Linked DNA regions of Homo sapiens. The protein of the gene in region 1 interacts with the protein of each later gene in a pairwise test. Each region holds a gene or a part of one and is shown on either strand. Other genes may lie near its edges.

Region 1 (3,659 bases):
TCTAGAAATGGCAGGTGAGGTGGACAAGCAGGGAAAGAAATTATATGCATAGAACAGAAGGAGAAGAAAGAGTAAAGTCAGGCCTCAGCCAGCCTCTTTTTAGCTCTTTAAATCCTCTGGATTTAAGAGGGATAAAGGGTGGAATAAGGATAAATTAATGCCAATTGTAATGCCTTAAATTTGTGTGATACCTTACAACTTGAAACATATTCACAAAACTATATATTTGAATATCTCATTAGCTGAGTAAGGTAGCAAATCATAATTAACTTTTTCCATTTTATTGATGGGAAAGCTGAAGTTCAATGAAGTAAATTTTTCAATAGCCCACAGAGTAGGAAAGTGACAAAACCTGAGCCTGGGCCTCCAGGTCACTCAAGGACACTTTCTTTCTTCCACACCCAATTGCTTCATGCTTAAAGTTGGCAAAACAGGAAGTGAAACTCCTGCAGTTTTCTGTGTGGTTGACACTAGCAAGGGTTTCTCAGTTGAAGCCATGAATCATTAAGCCAATACATATGCATATATGTTATACATACCAAATGATTTATTTATAACCCTATCTTTCCATAAAGGACTTGAAGGAGCTTCAAACAAAGGATATGTGAACAATAGGGTTAATCAATAATAAGTAGAAAATCTGGACATAGAATAAAAAGAGGAGAGAAAGACACCGAGAATGAGCGTTAATACAGTGCTTTCCATTTTTCTGGTGTTTTGAGTAGCGTGGCTTTTGGAGAAAGCCAAAACTCAAATTCACTCCTTATCAACTGTGTGCCTTGGGCTCCATTTCTCTGAGAGTCTACTTAGCTCCAATGTAAAATAAGAATAGAACTATGACTTTGTAAGGTTGCTCTAAGGATTGAAAATCATGTATTATGTTCAATACGGGGACACTGTCCTTATGGGTGAGTACTCCCCTAAGACTTTATTAAGAGGGCACTAGGAGAAGCACTGGGAGGTCTTCTCAGTAACAACACTAAAGTAATTGCTATTTTTCCAGCCTGTGGAACCACAGAAGTGACTGTAACTAAAATTAGACATTTCTTTCTGATTCATTCTCTACTCACGGGATTGTCAGACCCCAGTCTTCTTCTGGACTCTATAAACTTTTTAGAAATCATCAGCAGGCTCCTGGAGAAGCTTAAATGAACTCACACAATATGTGACAGTGAACTCCCTGGGAGAGTGAAAACCAAAGTCTAAGCCAGTGTCTCCATTTACTTGTGTGATTGTGGGCAAGTCATTCAAGTGCTTTGAGGCTCAGGTCTTAATTCATGAAATGGAGGTAATAATACCTTGTTGGCAGACCTCACTTGGTTAAAATGATAATGTTGATAGTTACAATAGTTACATTTAATTGATCAATTGTTTTATGCAAGGGCTTTATTTGTGCTATCTCAGTTTGTCACATCAATGAATTAGAAAGATACGAAAGTATTTCCAATTTACAAATGAGGAGTCTGAGTCTGGGAGTCATTCTGTCATGTGTCCACTGTCACCTGCTCATTGGTGGCAGCACTGAGATTAGGATCTAAGTCCACTTCACCGCAGAAGCAGGGCTTCTAAATACTGTTCTATGGCAAGAGCACCCTGCTCTCACAAAATGCATAAAACTTCCTATCTCACCATTATAATTTTGACTGATATTAAACAAAGAGAAGTATTATTATTATTACTTGTTTTTATTTATATTACAGCTGTAAGAGCCAGGAAAAATGTGATCTAAGTTATGTGATCAAAGATTTTTTAACAGTGAACAAATCAGGCCCACTAGATGATGGCCTTTCTTTGAACAACATGCCTAGGGTTGCTCTATCATGTCTACAGTTGGTCTGACTTCCTGACGGGCATCACAGACTTGTGATTAAACACAGAGGTTATGGGGGAAGTTCCAAAAGCTTAGGACTTTCCAGATGGTTGGAATAAGATCACACACTCTGGCTGCCCTTATGGAGATCACCGAACTTTTCAACTCAAAGTAAAATCTGTGGAGTAAATGGTCGATCAAAAGGAACCAACTATATTGAGCACCATGCGTGATCATCTGATCGTTACTGCTACCTTGTGAGTTAAAGGCTACTCTTCTCATTTTAGAAATGAGAAAAGAGATGCCCAGAGAGGACGAGTAACTTGCCTTAGGTCACACAGCTTATATTAATCACAATAACATTTGCCGCACCTTCTGTATTTTTTTTAAGTTGCTAAGCTTTTGGTGCATGTCTGGCACCGTTTTAGTTGTATATTATTTCATTTAATTGTTAAAATGACCTTCTGATGCAGGTATTTGTAGCTTTGCCATTCCACAGATGAAGAAACAGATGAAAGGACTGAATTGTTCAATAGGAAGGAGCAGAATCAGGATATGAACTTGGGTTGGCCTGATTCTTGGGGCTGCATTCTTTCCATAACATAATTGCTTGCTGTGATGTCCTGGGCTACTCTGCCAGGGGTGGTTAGTGGAGTGAATGGAGAATAATTTAGACAAGGTCAGTAACTCCCATGCCATCTAGAAATTAAAAGTTTAAAAGGCAGAGTCTGCAACTCTCCTTGATTTCTACAGAAATAAAGATGATCCCTCCTGTGACAGTGCTAAGTGACAATTCTGAGTGTAAATGCGCTTTTTGGCACAAATTGTCCTGTCCTAATAGTCTTGATTATAATTATAAAATAATGGGTTTCTGAAAGGCTGCAAGCAGTTCTGGGAATGGCAATAAAGGTTTAGAAATGACGTGATGTTTATGAGAGAAGTGTTTTGTTGAAAATTAAACTCACGTTTAGGAGAAAGGATTGTGTTGTATGCTCCTAGGAAACTATCTCACTATGTAATTAAATCAAAACCAGCCAGTTACCAATTTGAGCTCTTGACTCATACTAACAACACCCCATTTCCCATGGGCCAAGCAAGGCAGGACTGACCTGAAATAACCCAGCCTGACTCTATCCACAGCCACCCCAGGACCTTGCCCCTCCGTCTTCCTAGGGCTCGGCCGTGAGATGCTAGTGCATGACCCTTCCTCTTCCTGGGACTGTCCTTGTCTTTCCCTTTGGACTCTGGGAGGTCTGTTCTCCTCCTCAGAAAGGAATAAACACTCTTTCTATTTGTGGGATTCCCTAGGAGACACTATATAAAAATATAGAGTTAAAAAAACTATTTAAAAAAAAGACAACTTCATGTCTCTACTCTGACTTCATTCTTTTTAAGATGGGTAACAAAGACTCTCTTCAAGGTTAGAAAATTTTATTTTAATTTTTATAGATTTAGAGAGTGCAAATGCAGTTTTGTTACATGAATATATTGCATAATGGTTTAGTCTGGGCTGTTAGCGTAACCATCAACTGAACAGTGTACTTTGTACCTATTAGGTACTTTCTCATCCCTTAACCCCTTCCCACCTTTCTGAGTCCTCAATGTCTGTTATTTCATTCTCCATGTCCATGTCTACAAATTATTTAGTTTCCACTCATAAGTGAGAGCATGGATGGAACTGGAGAAGAGTATTTTCTATCCCAAGATCGGTTCCTTGATCTTGTGTCTCCAAATCACTTGCTCTCTCTCTTACATCTTTTCTATCTTCTTCTAGCCTCTTTTTGCAAACTTCATTTTGACAAAGAATTCCAGGCAGTCTACAGCTGATTTTATTTCAATACAACGATTA
Region 2 (3,659 bases), on another chromosome or scaffold:
GAACTTGGATACTGTATAACTGAATTTCAAATTTAATTTGGTGGTAAGTCAGATATGATTAAGATCACATATGCACAGAAACATAAACCAACAAATTTGGAAAACATTTAAACTATGTTTCACCTCTCTACTTCCATCCCACTTCACTGCTTCTGCTTGAATAACAGACAGGGTAATGAGCTTCAAGGACTGCTGACACATAGGGCTCAATAAATATTGATCAAGGGAATGAAGAAAAAAAATGATAAAAGGACCAAATGGAAGACTAGGAGCATAAAGGATAAGAAACAGATTCAAGAAAGGAGAGGTTGTTATAAATTAGTTTTTAAGAACACACAAGTATAATTATAGTGAGTTGATATTTGAGCTATCTGGTAAGTATTCTCCATTTTACCAAGAGTCACTGTGGACAGGAATGGTCTTTCTACATGCTGAGAGATAAAATATGACTTATAAACTTCTCAGTAATTATCTGTTATGAATTTTCCAGTCATTAATTTATCTAAGCTATTTTGGAATAGGTATTTTCAGTCTGTATATTACCTTTTATTGGAAAAGAAACTCCTTCTACAGTTTTACTATCTATGAAGTAGTGTTTAATTTTATGTCCTAGGCTTATCTTTTCTAATCTTATAATAAGTGTTGCATTATTTCATAGAGTAACAATTTGCAGGCACTTTTCAAATTGCAAAGAAATGCAGTATAACAAAGAGATAGAATTAATTTTTAAATAAATATTGCTGGTTCTGATGTTTTACATTTTTAAGAACTATATGTTATTAACTTAGCATCTTAGAGTGATGCATCTTAGAACTTAGCAAACACTTGGTCCCACTGGTATACGCATGTGGGATTCCTGAAGAGAGTCAAGGTATATTATAAGTCTCTTTTAGGTGGATTTTAGGTTTGTAAAAATCATGATGTTATTTCTGGAAATGTATTTCATTGTACCATTTAAAATGCAAATAGAAACAATACTTTCATGGCTGAACATTTTGATAATAGCTTTGAGTATAAAGTTGCTGTCATTCGTCTGTGAAATGTAAGGTAATAACAAAGTTGTACTAGTACAGGAAGGACCCACAGAATATGGTCCATTTATTGGAAGACACAGACAATGAGAAACAGTTAATTCTTAGTAATTGCTTGAAAATCTCTATTTTCTATTGAAGAATGACTTTTTATTCAAATGTTTACTTATACCTGTGATATGCCAGGAATTTTACAAATGTTTTGTTTAAGCTGGGAAACTGTTCTCTCTGTTTTACATACAAGGAAATATGGGCTGAGGAAGCTGTATGACTCGCTGAAATACCTTTTAATGGTCAGTGTCAGAGCTAGGATTTGAATACAGCCCTGTCTGACCTCTGCTTTTTCATCATACTACGTAGCTTTTCTAAACGACTTCACTGGTCCATGTCAGATACTTATACTACTGGTTAGTATTAATTTTTACCAGTGCTGCCCAACAGAAACATAAAGCAAGTCATATATATAATTTAAAGTTTTCTAGTAGCACATTAAAAAAAGGAAAAAGAAACCAGTGACATTTATTTAATAATATGTGGCCAACTAACCAGGCTGTAAAAGAGACATCAGGACATGGGTAGTCCTCTTGCTCCTCCTCTACTAAGCAGGAATTGTCAAAGGATGGGAAGTTGTGGAACTACAAAAATTATTGGTTTGGGAGGCCAAGGTGGGAGCATTGCTTGAAGCCAGGAGTTTGAGACTAGCCAGAGCAACAAAGTGAGACCCCATCTTTACAAAAATAAAAAAAATATACATATATATACACATATATACACACATATATGTATATATACACATATATACACACATATATATGTATATATACACATATATACACACATATATATGTATATATACACATATATACACACATATATATGTATATATACACATATATACACACATATATATGTATATATACACATATATACACACATATATGTATATATACACATATATATGTATGTGTATATATGTGTATATATGCACACAAACACACACACACACACACACACATATATTAGCTGGGCGTGGTGGCACATGCATGTAATTGCAGCTACTTGGAAGGCTGAGGCAGGAGGATTGCTTGAGCCCAGGAGTTTGGAGGCAGCAGTGAGCTATGATTGGGCCACTGCATTCCAGCCTGGGTGACACAGCTAAATAAATAAATAAATATTTAAATAAATAAATTTATTTATTTATTTATTTAAATAAATAAATAAAATTGGTATAGAACTATAAAAATCTCCCTGACTTCTGTCTCATCTTCTGAGTTTTCTGAAGGTGGGAATCTTTGAGAATGAAGGTGAAAGTATTTACTTCTCAGAACTAGAGTATCCACTTTTATTTCTGGGTTATTATTCTCGTAATAAAATTAAAGAGTAAAAAAAATACATACGAATTGATAGAAAAAATAAGATCTTAATTGCTAGAAGATAAAATATAACATTGGGATTAATATGTTTTATTGGGGGTTCTCATCATGATTATCCTTCCCCAGACTGGTCTGATCCAGAGTGGAGGCAACGTGGTCATGGCTGGTTTATGCCTGAGTTAATGTGCTAATCAGACTGTGCACTTCCTAGGAGATGTTTAATTGTGACATGTCATGAGTTTTGGAATCTTAAAATTAGCTAAGAGGAAAAAAAAATCTATTGAGAGAAGCCAAAATGAACACCGAAACAAGCAAACCAACAAACCAAACAATAGCCTGCTCCACTCCCCCATGGCAACCTTTTAAATAAGTCACTTCATTGATTGCTTAAGATTAAATCCATTTTCATTTATTTATTTTCAAGAATGGAAAATGTAGTTGCCTGAACTTTATAGAAATTAGTAACAGGTTGTGTTCAACTCTCAGAAATGTAGTTTTCTTTTCTTTTTTTGGAAATATTGGAGCAGTTTAACTCAAAACACCATTTATAGGAGCTCTTGAATTCATGTTTACCTGTTTTGAGTTGCGTTTTTTACATTTTAATAATTAAAGAATATCATGTAATTCCCATAAACATTTTAACTTGAAAAGAGAATGATTTTATGATATCAGATTCAATGTGTCTTAGTTATATATATATATTCAATGTGTCTTAGTTATATATATTATATTTTTCCCTCCAAACTATTCAATTTCAAACTAGTTATTCACATGGTGTCAGGATAAGATTTTAATTTTTATTTTGCTTTTATTCACAAATATTGTTTTAGATCTGCTGCATGATCTTGAAGCTTTTTTTAAACTTTTATTGAAATATCTATGCTCTTGAGCATTCAGATTCTTTCTAGTGAAACACTGGGATTATCTTTCTTTAGTCAATCATTATCCATTAGAAACATTAACTAATTTACCCTCTCAAGAGTCCTAGAAGTTATATCATAACATTTTACAGAGACAGAAATCTGATGTCATGTGAATTTCTTAAGGTCAGAGACTGGAGTCTCTGGACAAATGGATCTAGGATTTTAAGTCAATGTTAGTTTCACAGCTGGCCTGGGCAGCTTTAATTCTGCTGAGAATGAATATATGATCCCTGTTACTTTCAGAAGAGATTTGGTCATTAAATCCTAATTATACAGACTGTAAAATCACTAGCTAGAGTTGCTCAGGCACATGTTATGATAACAATTCAGGG
Region 3 (3,659 bases), on another chromosome or scaffold:
CGGGGTGCAGTGGCTCATGCCTGTAATCCCTGCACTTTGGAAGGCCAAGGCAGGCAGATCACTTGAGCTCAGGAGTCTGAGACCAGCCTGGACAACATGGCAAAACCCATTTCTACAAAAAAAGCAAAAAAATTTAGCCAGGCGCAGTAGCGGGCACCTAGTCCCAGCTACTCAGGAGGCTGAGGTGGGAAGATCTCTTGAGCTCGAGAGGTGGAGGTTGCAGTAGGCTGTGATCCCGCCACTGCATTCCAGCCTGGGCAATGGGAGTGAAACCCTGTCCCCCCACCAAAAAACATCTGCCCAAAGGAAAAATGGGGCAAACAATTTGAATTAACAACGGCTGAGTACCCCGAGGAAACGCAAAAGGCCAATAAATAAATGAAAAAGTGTCCAACATTATGAGACATCAGAGAAATGTAAACTAAAACCACAAGGGGCCGGGCGTGGTGGCTCACGCCTGTAATCCCAGCACTTTGGAAGGCCGAGGCGGGTGGATCACCTGAGCTCAGGAGTTCGAGACCAGCCTGACCAACATGGAGAAACCCTGTCTCTACTAAAAATACAAAATTAGCTGGGCATGGTGGCCCATGCCTGTAATCCCAGCTACTCAGGACGCTGAGGCAGGAGAATCGTTTGAACCCGGGAGGTGGAGGTTGCGGTGAGCCGAGATCAAGCCATTGCACTCCAGCCTGGGCAACAAGAGTGAAACTCCGTCCCAATAAAATAAAGTAAAATAAAATAAAACCACAAGGAAATTCTGGGAAGACAGTAGTAGTAACAGCAGAATAGTCTTTGAATCTCCTCAAATTCTTACATAGTAACAGAAAAAATTCCATGGACAACAGTTACAAAAAAACTAGACAAGAAAGAATCTCCACAAACACCAAATTACTATAAACACAAGATTTAAATGTGCTTCTTGCTGTGTCACCCAGGCTGGAGTGCAGTGGTGCGATCTCGGCTTACTGCAACTTCCATCTCCCAGGTTTAAGCGATTCAATCCTTTCCTTCCTCTCTGAGAAAATCTCAATTTTCTTTGCCTTCCTGGGAGAAACCACTGTGCCTCAGAGGCAGTAAGCCCCAGATCGGGGCTTCTCATTAAATGTCTACAAAGAGTTAATAGTCAAATAATATCAGCATTTTCTCAACTTATAGAATGTGAAGTTATAGATACTATCAAAATATACAGATATCAAAACCAGGTTAGCAAAGTTTTACAACAGAAATTTCTAGCATTGATAACTGAAAAAAGATATTCCTTTTTTTTTTTTTTTTTTTGAGACAGAGTTTCGCTCTTGTCATCCAGGCTAGAGTGCAATGGCACGATCTCGGCTCACTGCAACCCTCTGCATCCCGGGTTCAAGCAATTCTCCTGCCTCACCCTCCCGAGTAGCTGGGATTACAGGCATGCGCCACCATGTCTGGCTAATTTTTGTATTTTTTAGTAGACACAGGGTTTCACCATGTTGGCCAGGCTAGTCTCGAACTACTGACCTCTGGTGATCCACACGCCTCAGCCTCCCACAGTGGTGGGATTACAGGCATGAGCCACCATGCCTGGCCCCAGGTATTCCCACTTTTAAAACTGACATATATCAGCGTAAGTTTGGGTCTCTCATTTGAAATAATGATATTGATGTTATTAATAAGTAGCATGGTATTTAAAAGAACAGCTCTGGTATCAAATTTGAACTGCATCTAATCAAGTCCTTTTTTTTCCCCAAATAAGATTTTTTTTTTTTTTGAGACAGAGTCTCCCACTGTCACCTGGGCTGGAGTGCAGTGGTGCAATCTCAGCTCACTGCAACCTCCACCTCCTGGGTTCAAGCGATTCTTCTGCCTCAACCTCCAGAATAGCTGGGATTAAGGGTGCCCGCCACCAAACAAGCTAGTTTTTTGTATTTTTAGTAGAGACAATGTTTCACCATGTTGGCCAGGCTGGTTTCAAACTCCTGACCTCGTGATTTCCCCGCCTTGGTCTCCCAAAGTGCTGAGATTACAGGAGTGAGCCACCACACCCAGCCAGATTTTTAAAAAGTATTTTGAACACTATTTTCAAGCCAAATTTTGAGACGGAATCTTGCTTTGTCACCCAGGCTGGAGTGCAGTGGCACGATCTCAGCTCACTGCAACCTCCGTCTCCCAGGTTCAAGCGATTCTCCTGCCTCAGCCTCCCTGAGTAGCTGGGACGACACATGCGTGCCACCATGCTGGTTAATTTTTGTATTTTTAGTAGAGAAGTGGTTTTGTCATGTTGGCCAGGCTGATCTTGAACTCCTGACTTCAGTGATCTGCCTGCCTCAGCCTCCCAAAGTCCTGGGATAACAGGCGAGTCACCGTGCCTGGCCCCAAGCCAAATTTCTTATTTTTTCTTTGACCACAACTGGCTTCCTTCAATTTTACACTGAAAATCAAAGGGAGATGTGAGTCATTTTTACAGCTAATTTAGTTGAAATGTCAGGCTTGTAGTTAAGCAGACTGCTAGTAACGGTTCAAAAAATTCCTCATGAGTGGCACACCAGTGGCCCCAACCTGTGAGAAGAAAAGAATTCTGATGATGGAATTTCTACTCTTAACTAAATGTAAGTCTCTGTATCAGGTCATTTAACTCTCTGACACTCAAGTCTTTTAATCTGGGCTTCGGATAATACTGCCTATGTTTAAATCTTGGTTTCCCATTTAGTCAATCGGTGGCTCCAGATAAATTGTTCAATCTCCTAGGCCAATTTCCTCATTTGTAAAATGAGAATACAGTTGTTTTAAAATTAGTTGCGGGTAGGTAGAGTGGCATGTGCCCAAGTCCCAGCTTTACTGTGGTTGCTGAAGCAAGAGAATCCTTTGAGCCCAGGAGTTCAATGCTGCAAGTAAGCTATGATAGCACCATTGCACTCCAGCATAGGCGGCAGAGGGAGAACCTACCTCCAAAAAAATTCATTAATTTTAAAAAATAAAAACTTTTTAAAAACTAAATCAGTTGAATTACATGAAGTTTTAGCACAGTGCCTGATATATACTAAGTGTGACATTGTGCTATTTTTATTAACTGTTACCTGCGAAACAGAAAAATCAAAATAGCTATTCTTACATTACAAGGCTATGTTGAAAAATGAGAAGCCACTTTGTATATGGTAAATACCATCAAAATAGCTGCATTGTAATCACAAGTACACAGGAAATGCAGTGCTTATTAATAAAATACAGTTCAAGGGGGGAAAAAATCTTTATTTTCCCATTCCAAGTTACTTTTTTTTTTTTTATTGAGACGAAGTTTTGCTCTTGTTGCCCAGGCTGGAGTGCAATGGTGCAATCTCAGTTCACTGCAACATCCCCTCCAGAGTTCAAGTGATTCTCCTGTCTCAGCCTCCCAAGTTACAGGCATGTTGCCACCATGCCCAGCTAATTTTATATTTTTAGTAGAGATGAGGTTTCGCCATCTTAGGTTGGTCTTGAAATGCCGACCTCAGGTGATCCACCCCCCCGACACTCACCAAAGTGGTGAGATTACAGTCGTAAGTCACTGTGCCTGGCCTCTTTTCTTACTTATAGTTGTATTTCCAATGCCTAGCACAGTTGTTGAACGAGTGGCTCCAAAAACTTCTTCCTCTGTCAAAGACTGGAGCTGTTATTCACCATGGCCATAGAACCAGAGTCAGGAAACA

Evidence for each region.
Region 2: the proteins of TLR4 (region 1) and NOX4 interact in binary tests that used the Homo sapiens proteins (3 or more experiments, as listed by UniProt).
Region 3: the proteins of TLR4 (region 1) and RNF216 interact in a two-hybrid assay, tested with the Homo sapiens proteins (one study listed by BioGRID).

What each region holds. Positions count from the first base shown.
Region 1 is NC_000009.12:117,717,844-117,721,502, forward strand, and holds part of TLR4 (toll-like receptor 4 isoform A precursor), read left to right. Parts: 3' UTR 1-3,659.
Region 2 is NC_000011.10:89,484,852-89,488,510, reverse strand, and holds part of NOX4 (NADPH oxidase 4), read left to right. Parts: intron 1-3,659. UniProt on the Homo sapiens protein: NADPH oxidase that catalyzes predominantly the reduction of oxygen to H2O2. Can also catalyze to a smaller extent, the reduction of oxygen to superoxide. May function as an oxygen sensor regulating the KCNK3/TASK-1 potassium channel and HIF1A activity.
Region 3 is NC_000007.14:5,771,517-5,775,175, forward strand, and holds part of RNF216 (E3 ubiquitin-protein ligase RNF216), read right to left. Parts: intron 1-3,659.